Linked DNA regions of Homo sapiens. The protein of the gene in region 2 purifies or fractionates together with the protein of the main gene of each other region. This does not show direct contact. Each region holds a gene or a part of one and is shown on either strand. Other genes may lie near its edges.

What was found. Proteins that work in one complex are often made in the same cells at the same time.
Region 1: the proteins of PHEX (region 2) and NAXD purify together in Homo sapiens (affinity purification with mass spectrometry; 2 studies listed by BioGRID and IntAct, with this or other methods). This does not show direct contact.

Annotation. Positions count from the first base shown.
Region 1 is NC_000013.11:110,618,519-110,625,546, reverse strand, and holds part of NAXD (ATP-dependent (S)-NAD(P)H-hydrate dehydratase), read right to left. Parts: intron 3,332-7,028; coding exon 3,181-3,331; intron 1,314-3,180; coding exon 1,268-1,313; intron 358-1,267; coding exon 269-357; intron 1-268. UniProt on the Homo sapiens protein: Catalyzes the dehydration of the S-form of NAD(P)HX at the expense of ATP, which is converted to ADP.
Region 2 is NC_000023.11:22,035,325-22,042,352, reverse strand, and holds part of PHEX (phosphate-regulating neutral endopeptidase PHEX), read right to left. Parts: intron 4,199-7,028; exon of another isoform or gene 3,959-4,198; intron 3,885-3,958; coding exon 3,816-3,884; intron 1-3,815. UniProt on the Homo sapiens protein: Peptidase that cleaves SIBLING (small integrin-binding ligand, N-linked glycoprotein)-derived ASARM peptides, thus regulating their biological activity. Cleaves ASARM peptides between Ser and Glu or Asp residues.

The DNA of each region.
Region 1 (7,028 bases), on a different chromosome or scaffold from region 2:
AGCCCACAGGGCCTCCCTGCCTCTGGAGCTGGGCCCCGGCCATTTCCAACAGGCCCAAGCTCCCCCACCCACCTCTCCACCCCGCCGTCTCTGTCTTATTCTGACCCCAGAAGAACGGGCTCCTTCATTTCCCTACTTCCTCTACAGCACCTGCTGAGAAACTCTGAGGATGGAAAATCCATCAGGACGCTTTCGGTGTCAGTGCCAAAACCCCAAATGATGCAGGAGGGAAAGAGAACCTACGAGAAGCCGGCGCAGAGCGACTCACAGAACTGGGTGGACGATCAGCTCCGGGCTGTAGGCCTTAATCACAGGTGCGGCCGCACTGGCACAGAACACGTGGGACAAGTCTGCGCCCTGATGAAGGAGCACAAGAGGCCGACTCAGGGATCGCTCCGGCATCGCTGCCCACCCGCCAGACACAGGCGTCCAGCGCTCATTACTCAGCCCTGGTGACGTGCATGAGAAACGTACTAGCTCGGATTACACCCAGCCAGGTGGCTTAGCAAAGGGCCAGGGCGCAGAGCACAATACCTAAAAAGAAAGACTTTTGCCGCCACTGCAGAGGCAGGGTCAGAGCCACACACACCAGCACGGCCCAGCTCGGTCTGGTCACCCTCCAGGAGGAAGGGTCACAGGAAGAGGCCGGCCGTTAGCACTTGCTCAGCTCATGGGAAACTGCAGGATCAGCGGCTTCAGCTGCGACCTACAAAGGCATCCCAGGTGCACTTTGGTGGAGTACAATACAAATCACGCTTTAGGTTTTAAAAATGGGCTTCAATTGAGGCCAGGTGCAGTGGCTCACGCCTGTAATCCCAGCACTTCGGGAGGCCGAGGCGCATGGATCACGTGAGGTCAGGAGTTCGAGACCAGCCTGACCAACAGAGAGAAAACCTGACTCTACTAAAAATACAAACAAAATTAGCCAGGCGTGGTGGCAGGTGCCTGTAATCCCAGCTACTCGGGAGGCTGAGGCAGGAGAATCGCTTGAACCCAGGCGGCGGAGGTTGCTGTGAGCCGAGATCCCGCCATTGCACTCCAGCCTGGGCAAAAAGAGCGAAACTCTGTCTCAAAAAAAAATGAGCTTCAACTGAAGTGATCTTGTTTATGCACAGATGTCAGGATAGACTTAACGGTGTTTCTATTAGCTATGATTACCCTAAGATATTATTTAGATTTCTATCAGAAAACATTTGCTTTAATCATATTTAAATAATCAAACTCTCTACCAGAAAAATCCCAATAAAGAAATTTTAAGTAAACATACCACTTTGAGAGCTGAGATTGCTGCAAAATATGGGGCTCCAGTGTACCTAAAAAGAAGGTATTTAGAGTCAAAAACTTCTGAGAATAAGGTAAGCATACCTTGATCAATAAATAGGTTATCAATAAAAAATAGACATAAATAATATAGACATGGTTTATCAATAAATAACAGAGACATGAAGCACACAGCACAAACCCAACACCTAAAAGATGCTCAGCAAATGTTCAATGAACATGAACCAGGTTCGACTAGAAATGTCTTTTTTTTTTTTTTTTTTGAGACAGAGTTTCACTCTTGTTGCCCAGGCTGGAGTGCAATGGCACGATCTTGGCTCATTGCAACCTCCGCCTCCTGGGTTCAAGCGATTCTCCTGCCTCAGCCTCCTGAGTAGCTGGGATTACAGGCATGCGCCACCACACCCGGCTAATTTTGTAGTTTTAGTAGGGACAGGGTTTCTGCATGTTGGTCAGGCTGGTCTCAAACTCCCAACCTCAGGTGATCCGCCCGCCTCGGCCTCTCAAAATGCTAAGATGACGGGCATGAGCCACCGCGCCCAGCCAGAAATGTCGATCTTTTACATAAAACCTTCATGCATTTCAGGAGAGTGAATCTCTGGCAGTAATGCCTGCAGTCTCCCTGCAATGTGAATGTTCAAGGTAAGGAGCTGACCGCAGGCTTCTGCCTGGAGAGAAGAAAGTGACAACCACATGTTCGGAGCAGTCGGGCATGGACAGGGTCCCAGAGTGGGCAGACCCCGTCCTCCAAGAGTCACAGTCAGCAGAGGCCAGATGGGGGCCACCTGGGACAAACAAGAAACGGCACCCACCACCCAGCTGCTTCCGCCTGGCTGTTCTGGAATCCCTGGCTCTCCAGGTCTAAGGGCACTTCAGGCACAGAAAGGAAGAGCCCTGCCCTCCGTCAGATGGGCAAATGCAACCTTTATGTCCATTCCGAGCAGTGAAATGTTTTGCTAACCCAAGAAAGAGAGACCTGGGCAAATGCTGATACCCATCACCTTACATGGCCTTCTCCTGCAAAGCGGTGTCAATAGCGTTGTAAATGCAAAAGACAGTACAGAACAGGCAACATACATGCACACACTCTTCCATCATGTGAAAACAAGCCTCACTAATAAGAGAAATGCATTAAAACAACAAGAAAGCTTGTCGACTTCACTAGCAAAGGTTGTCCTCCAAGGGCTGCAGGGAACAGGTGCTCTTGGGAGGCAACACACACTAACGCAATGGGGGGACAATTCGGCAGCGTCACCAGCATGTAAAATGCACACATACCTGATCCAGTAACAACTCTAACACACCCTATGGCACGATCAACAGCTGCAAATGGAGGGATGGGCAAAGAGAGATACCACATCCATGCAAACAGAAAGCAAGCAGAAACAGAGGAGCCACGGCAGGCTTTCCGTCAGAGGCAGAAGGTATCCTTCACACCCAAGGACAACTTACAAACAGCTACGTACCAAACACAGCAGCAAAACAGAACAGAAGCAAGCTAGGGATTTGTCAAATTTCATAAATGACTTTCAGTAACATCTTTAAATTGACAAAGTAAACCAAGAGGTTGCTGAGTGTTTCTATCCTAAATACAAAAAACATGCTTGTGGTATGAAGTCCAGTTAAATACAGAAAAGCAGAAAGTGGAAAAAACAGGCTCATTTCCCCACTACGACAAAACTTAACACTGACACACATGAGGGAGTAATTCAGTCAGGGCTCCTCAGAGTTATTTCCTAGTTAATCAAAAAGTGGATCACTGAAAAATACTGAGTGTCCTATCAGGCTGCATTTGGAAATGATTACTGAGGTCAAACTAGACAGCGTGAATGACAGTCAGGTAAGCAGCCAGCCAGCAACTGACTTTTTAAACACCAACACTGCACATCAGCTACTTACTCCTGACAGCCTCCAACTACGCCTATTCTTCCATCTTGCCCTTTGTGCTTTGTGGAAGACAGAGGAGGTATGATATTTCTCACCAGCTGCAAAGTATTTTCCATATCCTTTATCGAATGTGCTTTACGTAGCGAAAACGCTCTTTCTAAAACTGAAAGACAAGAAAAATGAATAATTCAGAAAGGTAAACAGATATTGTTAGTACACATAATAGCCCATTAACCAAAACCCTCTCCAAAGTTATTACGAATGCTATAGATTTTTACCCAATGGATTTCTGTAAGCAAATATGATGTTCAAAATTACATTAACACATGCAATTTTTTTTTTCTTTTTTGAGACGAACTCTGACTCTGTCACCCAGGCTGGAGTGCAGTGGCGTGATCTCAGCTCACTGCAACCTCTGCCTCCCAGGTTCAAGCAATTCTCCTGCCTCAGCCTCCTGAGCAGCTGGGATTATAGGTGTCTACTACCACACCTGGCTAATTTTTGTATTTTCAGTAGAGATAGGGTTTCATCATGTTGGCCATGCTGGTCTAGAACTCCTGACCTCAAGTGATCTGCCAGCTGCAGCCTCTCAAAGTGCTGGGATTACAGGCGTGAACCACCATGCCCAGCCTGAACACATGTAATTAACACATATAGTAACACATGCTATTTATTTATTTATTTGAGACAGAGTCTAGCTCTGTCACCCAAGCTGGAGTGCAGTGGCACGATCCTGCTCACTGCAACCTCCACCTCCTGGGTTCAAGCGATTCTCCTGCCTCAGCCTCCGGAGTATCTGGGATTACAGGCACCTGCCACCCTGCCCTGCTAATTTTTGTATTCTTAGTAGAGACAGGGTTTCACCATGTTGGCCAGGCTGGTCTCCAACTCCTTACCTCAAGTGATCTGCCCGCCTCAGCCTCCCAAAGTGCTGGGATTACAGGCATGAGCCACCCCACCAGGACAACATATGCTATTTCTATCAGGTTTATTTTTGAAATGTATCTGAAATTTTGGAAGACCATTTAATTTTCCAGAAAGTTTTATCAAGTAAAAAAATGCATTATTACTTAATAAACTATCACTTCATTTCAATTTCCCTTTAGGATTATTAGGTCTTTTCTCTCCTCACAAACTGGAAAGCAAGCTCCCACCTGTAATCCGCTGGGGTGCTCAGAAGTCTGACAGATTCATCATATTACTCCCAACTGTATTCCAACACTCAACTGGGTATTAATTAAATAACCTAGAAATGGCATTCTAAATATGGCACACCTCTTAAATTGGGTTCAAAGTGGCATTTAATGTATTTTCATCATCTTGAGTTGTCTCTAAACAGCTACACTTCAATTGGCCTTTCTTGAAGAGCTTCCTGTGTTATATATTTTACCTTAATATTTAAAACAGCTCGGCTATGAGAGAAATGCTGGTATGTTCTATAGAGCTCAATGAATAAAGCATACATTCTCCCTAGAATGAAAGGATCTTTGCAAATATAAACAGTATTTTTTCAAACAAGGCACTCAATATTTTTATCCTTCCAATTATCTCAGCAGCAGAGAAAAACCAGTGTCACAAGTTCCACTGACTGCAGTCCAAAGCTCACTGAGCGTTTCACAGCAAAAGAGCTTTGTCTTTTAACTCTTACAGTTTTACTTTTTACTCAACAAAACTTTTGAAGGAATTTTCTTTATGAGTAGATGTAACTGCCTTAGCTGATAGAGCAGATGCTGGGATTCCCCAAGATAAAAAGATCCTATGAATCCCCATCAACCCAAATTCTTTTTTTTTTTTTTTTTTGAGACAGAGTCTCACTCTGTCGCCAGGCTGGAGTGCAGTGGTACAATCTCGGCTCACTGCAACCTACGACCCCCTGGTCCAAGCAATTCTCCTGCGTCAGCCTCCTGAGTAGCTGGGACTACAGGCGCATGCCACCACGCCCAGCTAATTTTTGTATTTTTAGCAGAGACGGGGTTTCACCATGTTGGCCAGGGTGGTCTCGATCTCCTGACCTTGTGATCTGCCCACCTCGGCCTCCCAAAGTGCTAGGATTACAGGTGTGAGCCACCGCGCTCAGCCCAACCCCAAATCTTTTCACCTTCTTCCAGACCAACACACAAGACCCGGCACAGAATCACTATAAACTGTGGGCCAAGGAGAGACACAATGAAGCTTGCTGAGCTACCTGCAGGGGACCAATGCACCCATCCTTGAAATCCCTCCAGGAGGGCTAAATTATGGTTTTAAAACAATACACTTGTCTAGAAGAGACATTTATGGGGCCAGGCGCAGTGGCTCCCCGCTGTAATCTCAGCACTTTGGGAGGCCAAGGTGGGTGGATCACTTGAGGTCAGGAGTTCGAGACCAGCCTGGCCAACATAGTGAAACCCCATCTCTACTAAAAATACAAAAATTAGTTGGGCACGGTGGTGCATGCCTGTAATTCCAGCTACTCGGGAGGCTGAGGCAGAAGAACTGTTTGAACCCAGAAGGTGGAGGCTGCAGTGAGCCAAGATTATGCCACTGCACTCCAGCCTGGGTGACACAGCGAGACTCTTGTCTCAAAAAAAAAGACATTTATGGGTATCGATCAGCATCCTGTCTTTGTCGTGGGGAGCTGTTCTATGCACTGAAGGATGCTGAGCAGCATCCCCGGCTTCTACCCAGTCAGCAGTGCATGTACACGCACCCAGTGGTGACAACCAGCAATATCTCAACACTCCCAAATGTCTTCTGGATGGGGCAAAATGAGCCTGGGTTAAGAACCACTAGTAGAGATGCATGCGTGTAGTTTTAGCACCTTTAAATATACCAGTACTTCAAATTAAATATTTAAGGTCATATAAAATATAAATTGTGACTTATGAAATCACAGAGAAAAACAATTTAGTCAGACTTCAACTTACGGATGTTAAAAATCAACATTTATATCAATGTACCCTGCCTGATGAAAACAACTCCTAAATGGTAATACTTCATAAATGTGTATTTCTCACAATAAGAAAAGGAATAAAATGGTTCCACCAGATAATACTGTATATTTTCCAGGAGGCTTCTTTCTCCCAATATCCAAGATTCATATCTTACAAACATCTGTATCTTAAATTTCAGATTTAAGTCTTAAAAAAAGTACTATAGGTGAGGTATGAAATATTTAATGTTTATATCAAAAAGGGCAAATACCATAAACCCACACTGAACTACCCATTTGCACTTTGCCTCATAGTTGAAATAACCTATACATTACCGGAAAGGATCTGACACAAAATTAAGCTGCAGCCACGAGTCCAGGTGGAGCACCTGTCAGGTGGAGGGGAGCACCAATGCCCCTCTGCAACCAGTGTCGCCCAGCACTCCCAGGAGGGCACAGCAGGGCCGCCTCGGGGTCACAACTGCAGCACCAGAGCTCCCAGGGATGCTGTGTTCCAAGTGCTTGTCCTCTCCGCATCTGCTCCCCAGAGCGGAAAAGCTTCCCTTCTGCGTCACACTCTGCTGAAAGTCCTCCCAGTACTTTTGGTACTGGGATAGCACCTTTCTGATCTTTTTGGTTGAGAAAGAGGAGATATGCTAGTCCAGGCAAGGATACGCTTAAAACCTACAGGCTTTAAAGCTAATACTGATTTTTGTTGTTATTCAAATAATGACAAGAACACATACAATTTTTCCTGCACTTCAAGGTAAGCTTTGTTAAAATGATAAGATATCAGGGGGCTCAAACATCGAATACAATATACGAATAAGGGCCACTTTCTAAGGCGGATTTTTCTACAGCAGGTTAAGCATTAAAGTCCCATTTACCACAAGCCAAAAATATCAATTCTGAGTGTGTAAAACCCACTGCATTCACACGGCAATCTTTA
Region 2 (7,028 bases):
AGCCTGTCTGCCCTTATCTGTGATCATGAGCATGCATGCCCTTTCCTTGTTTCTTTGCATTCTTTGCACAGCTCTTATTTTGAAAGAGGGATTAAAATAAGAGGACACAGAGAAGAGGAGAGTTATGGAGAGGAAGCATCTCAGAAGTGGTTGGCACCTGCTCAGAAATGGTCCAGAAGGCGATCAAACACTCTAGTCTTCTGAACTTTCAGCATGCACGCCCACGCACGCACAGCCTCTTGTTTAAGGCCCTGGCTTGGCCGTAATTCTCCTGCCATGTGTACTCACAGCTGTTCTGCAGACCCCTGGGCACACTGAGGCTCACGTTACACTAAAGAGAACTGGGTCTTTGGTGAGCCTTTCACTCCAGAAACAGCAAAATCAATATTTTTTTTCAACATTAGAAAGCCATTCGCCAATGTGAAAATTAAAAACAGGACAGCAAGGCAGAACACACTAGCTGGCAGAAGGCAACATCTTTGAATGTCAGTCTGTAAGTTTTAGTCTTGCATTATTATGATTCATAATACAGAACTAAAACTCATGAAATAAGTGGCCTTCCATACAAAAAAGTGTTCTAAACTCAAGTTGAAAATTTATGAGCTCAAAAATTCCCATTTCACACATCTGCAAGAACCCCACCACAGCCAAAGCACCAGGTGACATAAACTCTAAAACCTGTCCTGATAGTTCCGCCTGCTCTCTCACCCCACTCCATGACAATCTCTCACCACTGGAGAAAACCTCAGGTCAACTACTCAAGCCTGGAGCAGGAAAGGGCCTGGGAGTTCTCAGATAGTTCCAGGGCCAAAAAGAGTTGCCTGGCATGGCCCCATATCACCAAGGAAAAGACGGAAAGGAGCCAGACATGGACACGAAGTCCAGCTCTGCTACTAACTCAGGATGAGACCCTGGGCAGTTATTTAGCCTCCAGAAGCCTCCATTTCCTCATCTGTCAGTGAGGCTGGTGATAGCACTGACTTCATAGGGGTCTTATGAAGGTTTTATGAGATGGTGCCTGTAAGGCACTCAACACACAGCCTGGTTAAAATATATATATATATATATATATATATATATATATATAGAGAGAGAGAGAGAGAGAGAGAGATCACTTAAGAATGGAACAAAAAAAGAACTCTACTAACATAATTATCTAAGCCACTACCTTTGTATAAGGTCTCCGAATTTACAAGCTCTTTCACCTAAGTGTTTCCCATCTCAATAAACACCACTGCCCAACCATCACCAAAAATCTAAGCGTCACCCACAATTGTCTGCTTTTGTTCACAGCCTGCATCGAATCCTTCAATAGGCCCTCTACCTCCTAAACCTTCCCCCATTCTCCCTCTCCATCTCTTGAATTCAAGACAGCATCGTCTGTCACCTGGCGTACAGAAATAAACCTACTTGAGTCACCTTCTTCTATTCTTGCTCCCTATGGTCTCTTCTCCATCAAGAAAGACTCCCTCTAACTGAGCCCTCCACCGAGACATCTTTTGAAATGCTCCTAAGATGTATTCTCTTTCATAAAAGCCTCCAGAGGCTTTCGAGCACACTTAAGGAAAGCCCAAACTCACTGGCACTTGGGTCCCCCATTGACTCCTCATCACTTGCACCTCACCTAGCAAGCTCCTCCCGTTCCTCAAGTCCACCAAGTTCATGCTTCTATGCACCCTTTGCCCCATCTGTTCCCCCCACCTGGAAAGCCCTTGCCTCAGTCTTCACACAGCAGTTCCCTCCTCATCATTCAAAGGTCACCTCCAAGGTCATGTCCTCCGGCTTTTCAATCTAGCCATCCTGTCACTTGCTATCACATTGTTCTATCTTTTTTTTAATTTTCTCTATAACATTTTCCACTGACTGATATTCCTCTTTCTTTCTTTCAGAGATGGGGTCTCACTAATTTGCCCAGGCTGGCCTCCAACTCCAGGGCTCAAGCCTCAGCCTCCCATGTGGCTGGAACTAAAGGCACGTGTCACCACACCCAGTTTCATAATTTTCTCATTGTATTAATTGCCTTATTGTCTTTCTTCCCATACCTGGTTCACTGCTCTATTTCCAAAACCTAACTCAGTACCTCATGTGCAACAAATATTTGGTGAATTTGTTCATTAACCTTTTAAGGCCAAGAGGAAAGTGAAAGGGCCACATGCTTGTTTGATGACTTTCCTTTTGGAAAAAGGAAAAAAGTGTCCCTGCCCACTTAAAGAATGAGGGTGAGGGCTAGAATCTGGCTCCCTGAAATCTAGGCCCTAACACTGATTTAGGAGGGAAATCTAATAGCTGTGTGTGGGACCCCCAGGTTTCCCCTCACCTCCCCACCGCCGCTTTCGGTGTCCTAACCAAAAATTACACAATCCCCTGACCACTCTGTGACCCAGCCACCTGCAGGTTTGTTTTGTTTTGTTTTTTTTGAGACAGAAGTTCCCTCTGTCACCGAGGCTGGAGTGCAATGGTGCAATCTCAGCTCACTGCAGCCTCCGCCTCCTGGGCTCAAGCAATTCTCATGCCTCAGCCTCCCGAGTAACTGAGATTACAGGCATGAGCCACCATGCCCGGCTAATTCCAGCTGCTGGTTTTTCCCAGCAGGCTTAGGTCCAGACTGGACCCTTGAACATTCCCAGGCACTGATAAAGGTATCTAGGTTGATGCACAAAACACTGAAAGAAACTAGTACCGGCTCTGAGCCAAATTCCTTAAACCCGCATATAGTCTCCACACCCTAATGCCCTAAGTAGAACACCCCTTTTCTCTCACTGTCTTGAGGATACACTGCAGCACTTTCAACATAAGTTGCACTAATAAATGCTTTGGACTGACCGGCCGCCCTGGCATTTATTTAGTGCTTCTTTCTTTGGAATCCCAACTGGCCCCATCTCGGGATGGGATATTCCCTCATGGGAATTTCCCTGTTGCTGCTTTTGGGGCAACTCCAGCCATGAGTTTGATGGGATAAGACACTGTGGCAAAACTGCGGCCACTTTAAACACTCATCTTCACCCTGGGATATCCACTGATACACAGCCTGGTCACCTCAAGAGAAGTTTGACTTGCAACGTGTGACAGAAAAAAGAGATTCCCAGCCGGGCACAGTGGCTCTTGCCTGTAATCCCAGCACTTTGGGAGGCCAAGGCGGGTGGATCACTTGAGGTCAGGAGTTCGAGATCAGTGTGGCCAACAAGGTGAAACTCCGTCTCTACTAGAAATACAAAAATCAGCCGGGCGTGGTGGTGGGCACTTGTAATCCCAGCTACTAGGGAGGCTGAGGCAGGAGAATCACTTGAGCCCAGGAGGTGGAGGATGCAGTGAGCTGAGATCGTGCCAGCCTGGGCGACAGAGCAAGACTCCGTCTCAATTTTTAAAAAAGAGAAAAGGGACTCCCACTGACAATGGAAGCGTGGATTTATTTGCAAAGGAGCCTTGCTTAGAGGCAGGCAAGTCAGACCCACAGACCAGAAGATAGGCAACTGCTTAAGGTAAAGAGGAATTCATAGCCAGCGGAGCCATAGGAAGACCAATGTTCTCTGCCTGTGGGTCTTAAGAGAGGCCATTCAGCCTTCCAAGCCCCTTCCTGATTTCCTTGTAACAACGCTTAGAATACCACAGTTTTTGCAAGGAAAAAGAAAACAGGAAACCTAAGCTCCACTGTTTCACACCAAAACTTGAAAATAAACTTAAAATTTCTTCAAAATTGCATTTCGTACTTGGTAAACCTCAAGCAAACAGAATACTAAAAATACCACCTGTCTTCTCTTCCACTTCCCAAGGTACCATAATTATAACTTGACACAGGATGGAAAACTGTGACTTACCCGCTTCGATGCATTCTGGCTTCAGGCAGTACTCCTGTTTAGCTTGGAGACTTAAGAGACCTTGACTCACTGAAAAAACAGACCACAATAAATGGCTGAGTTGTAGCAGACCACCATCCGGTAAACCACCCTCGGAAACATACGCAAGATATTTGATATCAGTTCATCCTTCTCAGTGTTGACACGGTATTCCAAAACCCAGTTGGTTCAATGTCACGAAACCAGACTCTAGCTGCTAGCTAAATAACCTTGGTAAGACTCTTGGTTGCTTTGAAACTCAGTTCTCTCGTACGTAAGATAAGTGAGTATAACTAGACCAGAGCTCCTAAGAGTGTGGTCTCTAGAGCAGCAGCAGCTGCTGCTGCTGCACCTGGAAGCTTGTTAGAAAGCCACTCCAAGATCTTGACTCAGAAACCCTGGGGGTGGGGCCCAGCCATCTGCGGTTTAACAAGCCCCCCAGGTGATTCCGATACATGCTCAAATATGAGCACCACTGGGCGAGACACTCTCTAAAGTCGCTTCAGCCTCCAATTATCAGTGGTTTAAGTCTCATACTTTCACTCTATTGGTTTATAACTCCATGCCCATGTTCAAGATGGGAAAATTGAAACTTTTAAACTATGTCATTTGGAGCCAATCAGAGTGGAAATAGAAAGCTAGCATGTTTGGCTTTTAGAGTTCTGGATCTTATCTAAACCATCCATACAGATACGGACCAAAAAAGGGGTAGGGGTAAAGAATATACTGAACATATCTCAATCACCTATTGATAGCAACAGTCATTGTCCGCCTGCCCTGAACCCCACAAACTCTCCGCCCACCAGGCCCAGCTTAGCTACCAGACATTTGCAACTTTGTGGACCAAGCTTCCAGCTATTTCCTCCCTTCCCCCACTCCAAAAAAAAAAAAGTCTAAAATTGAAATAGCTTTTCACCAATGGCTTAATATCTCCATCTGCCTGGCAACATTATCTAAATAGGTGTCTGCAGAAGTACAGAAGGGTGCCCAATTTGTCAACCCCAGGTAGCACCTGGGCATTAGCAGATGTTAGTTTAAGATTTCAAAAGTATTTGTAGTAGCTGAGGAAATTCTGGGGAATTCATTCTTGCTGTGCTCTGTGAGCAGAAACAATGAATCATTTGGAGATGTGGCCATGGGGAGAGGGATGGTGGGAGGTGAATGGGGACCAAGGCCCTCTGTGGCAGAAAGCTCGGCAGTACCTATATTTCTGCTAGAGATGGAAGACCTGTAGATTACTACCCAGTGTGGCGAGTTTTTATTATTTATTAACCCACTCTCTAAATGGAGCCTGCTTTTCCTTTGTTCTTTTTCTCTGCTGCCATCCTCCAAACAGCCTCTTTGCATTGCATTGTGTTACATTAGAGATTCAAGAAAACTGCCGATGAAACATCTCAGTCCTATTTTTTTTTTTTTTTTCGAGACAAGAGTCTCACTCTGTCACCCAGGCTGGAGTGCAGTGGGGTGATCTTGGCTCACTGCAAGCTCTGCCTCCCGGGTTCACGCCATTCTCCTGCCTCAGCCTCCCGAGTAGCTGGGACTACAGGCACCCGCCACCACGCCCGGCTAATTTTTTTGTATTTTTTAGTGGAGATGGGGTTTCACCGTGTTAGCCAGGATGGTCTCGATCTCCTAACCTCATGATCCGCCCGCCTCGACCTCCCAAAGTGCTGGGATTACAGGTGTGAGCCACTGCGCCTGGCCCATCTCAGTCCTGTTTTTAAGAAAATAAGTTTCTTAGCAAAAAGGTGTGTTTTGATTTCTGTATAAAGCAAAAAAAAAAAAAAAGTTATGTAAAAAAATATATATGGGCAGCATAAAGATTAGTGTGCAATATTCCAATATGCCTGGGTGGCAGAACCTCAGGGGGAATTTTCCCCATCAGTCAATTTTTATATGTTGACCTAATGTTCTTTAGTGAGCATGTGTTCTTTTATATAATGCAAAAATAAGCTTTATTGTAAATAATATTTTTATAATTCTGGACAATACCTTCTTGATCCTAGCCTTATTTTAAAAAACAAAATAGCTAATAAAATCGTTAAAGACTTATTCCTTTCATGAGAGATAATTCTTGACCCAAAACCTCAAAGGAAGAAGTAAAATCAGGTATCTTTATCTAACGATGAGCAGAAGGAAGGTTTTAAATATAACTAATTAGGCCAGGCACGGTGGCTCAGGCCTGCAATCCCAGCACTTTGGGTGGCCGAGGTGGGCGGATCACCTGAGGTCAGGAGTTCGAGACCAGCCTGGCCAACATGGTGAAACCCCATCTCTACTAAAAATACAAATCTTAGCTGGGCGTGGTGGTGCACGCCTGTAATCCCAGCTACTCAGGAGGCTGAGGCAGGATAATTGCTTGAACCCAGGAGGCGGAGGTTGTAGCGAGCCAAGATCGCACCACTGCACTCCAGCCTGGGTGACAGAGTGAGACTCCGTCTCAAAAAAAAAAAAAAAAAAAAAAATATATATATATATATATATGTACGTGTGTGTGTGTGTGTGTGTGTGTGTGTGTGTATAATTAATTAATTGGGACACTGACAGACCCAACCCCTCAAGGAAGAGCATTATCTCCATGGATGGGGTTATTTTAAAATTCTCCAAATAAATGAGGATCAATAAGCCCAGATAATGTGAAGGTGTAAGTGAATGAAATAGAGACAATAAAGAAAATATTTTTAATATAAAAATTAAGATGTTACTTTTGAATGGTTAGGAGCTTTAAAAAATACATGTAAATAGCAGTTTGGTTTCTCATTGTAGATTTCTCTATAACCAGAGGAAATGCCCTTAGGATGCAGTGGAGTCATCCACAGATCAAGAGCATAAGAATGGCCAGAAAGCAGGGGTCAGCAAACTATGGCCTGTAGGTCAAATCCATTGCCTGTTTCTGTACAGCCCATGAGCTATGAATGGCTTTTACATTTTTTTCATGGTCAGGAAAAATAAAAAGGAAAATAATATTTCATGACATATGAAAAGTATATAACATTCCAATTTCAGTGTCTAGAAATCAGATTTTCTTGGCACACAGCCATGCCCATTTGTGTACATATTGTCTATGGATGCTTTTGTGCAACAACAGCAGAATTGAGTAGTTGCAAGAGGCCGTATGGCCCACAGAGCCAAATATATTCACTATCTATCTGGCTCTTGGCAGAAAAAGTTTGCCAGCCAGTGCATCTGAGAAAC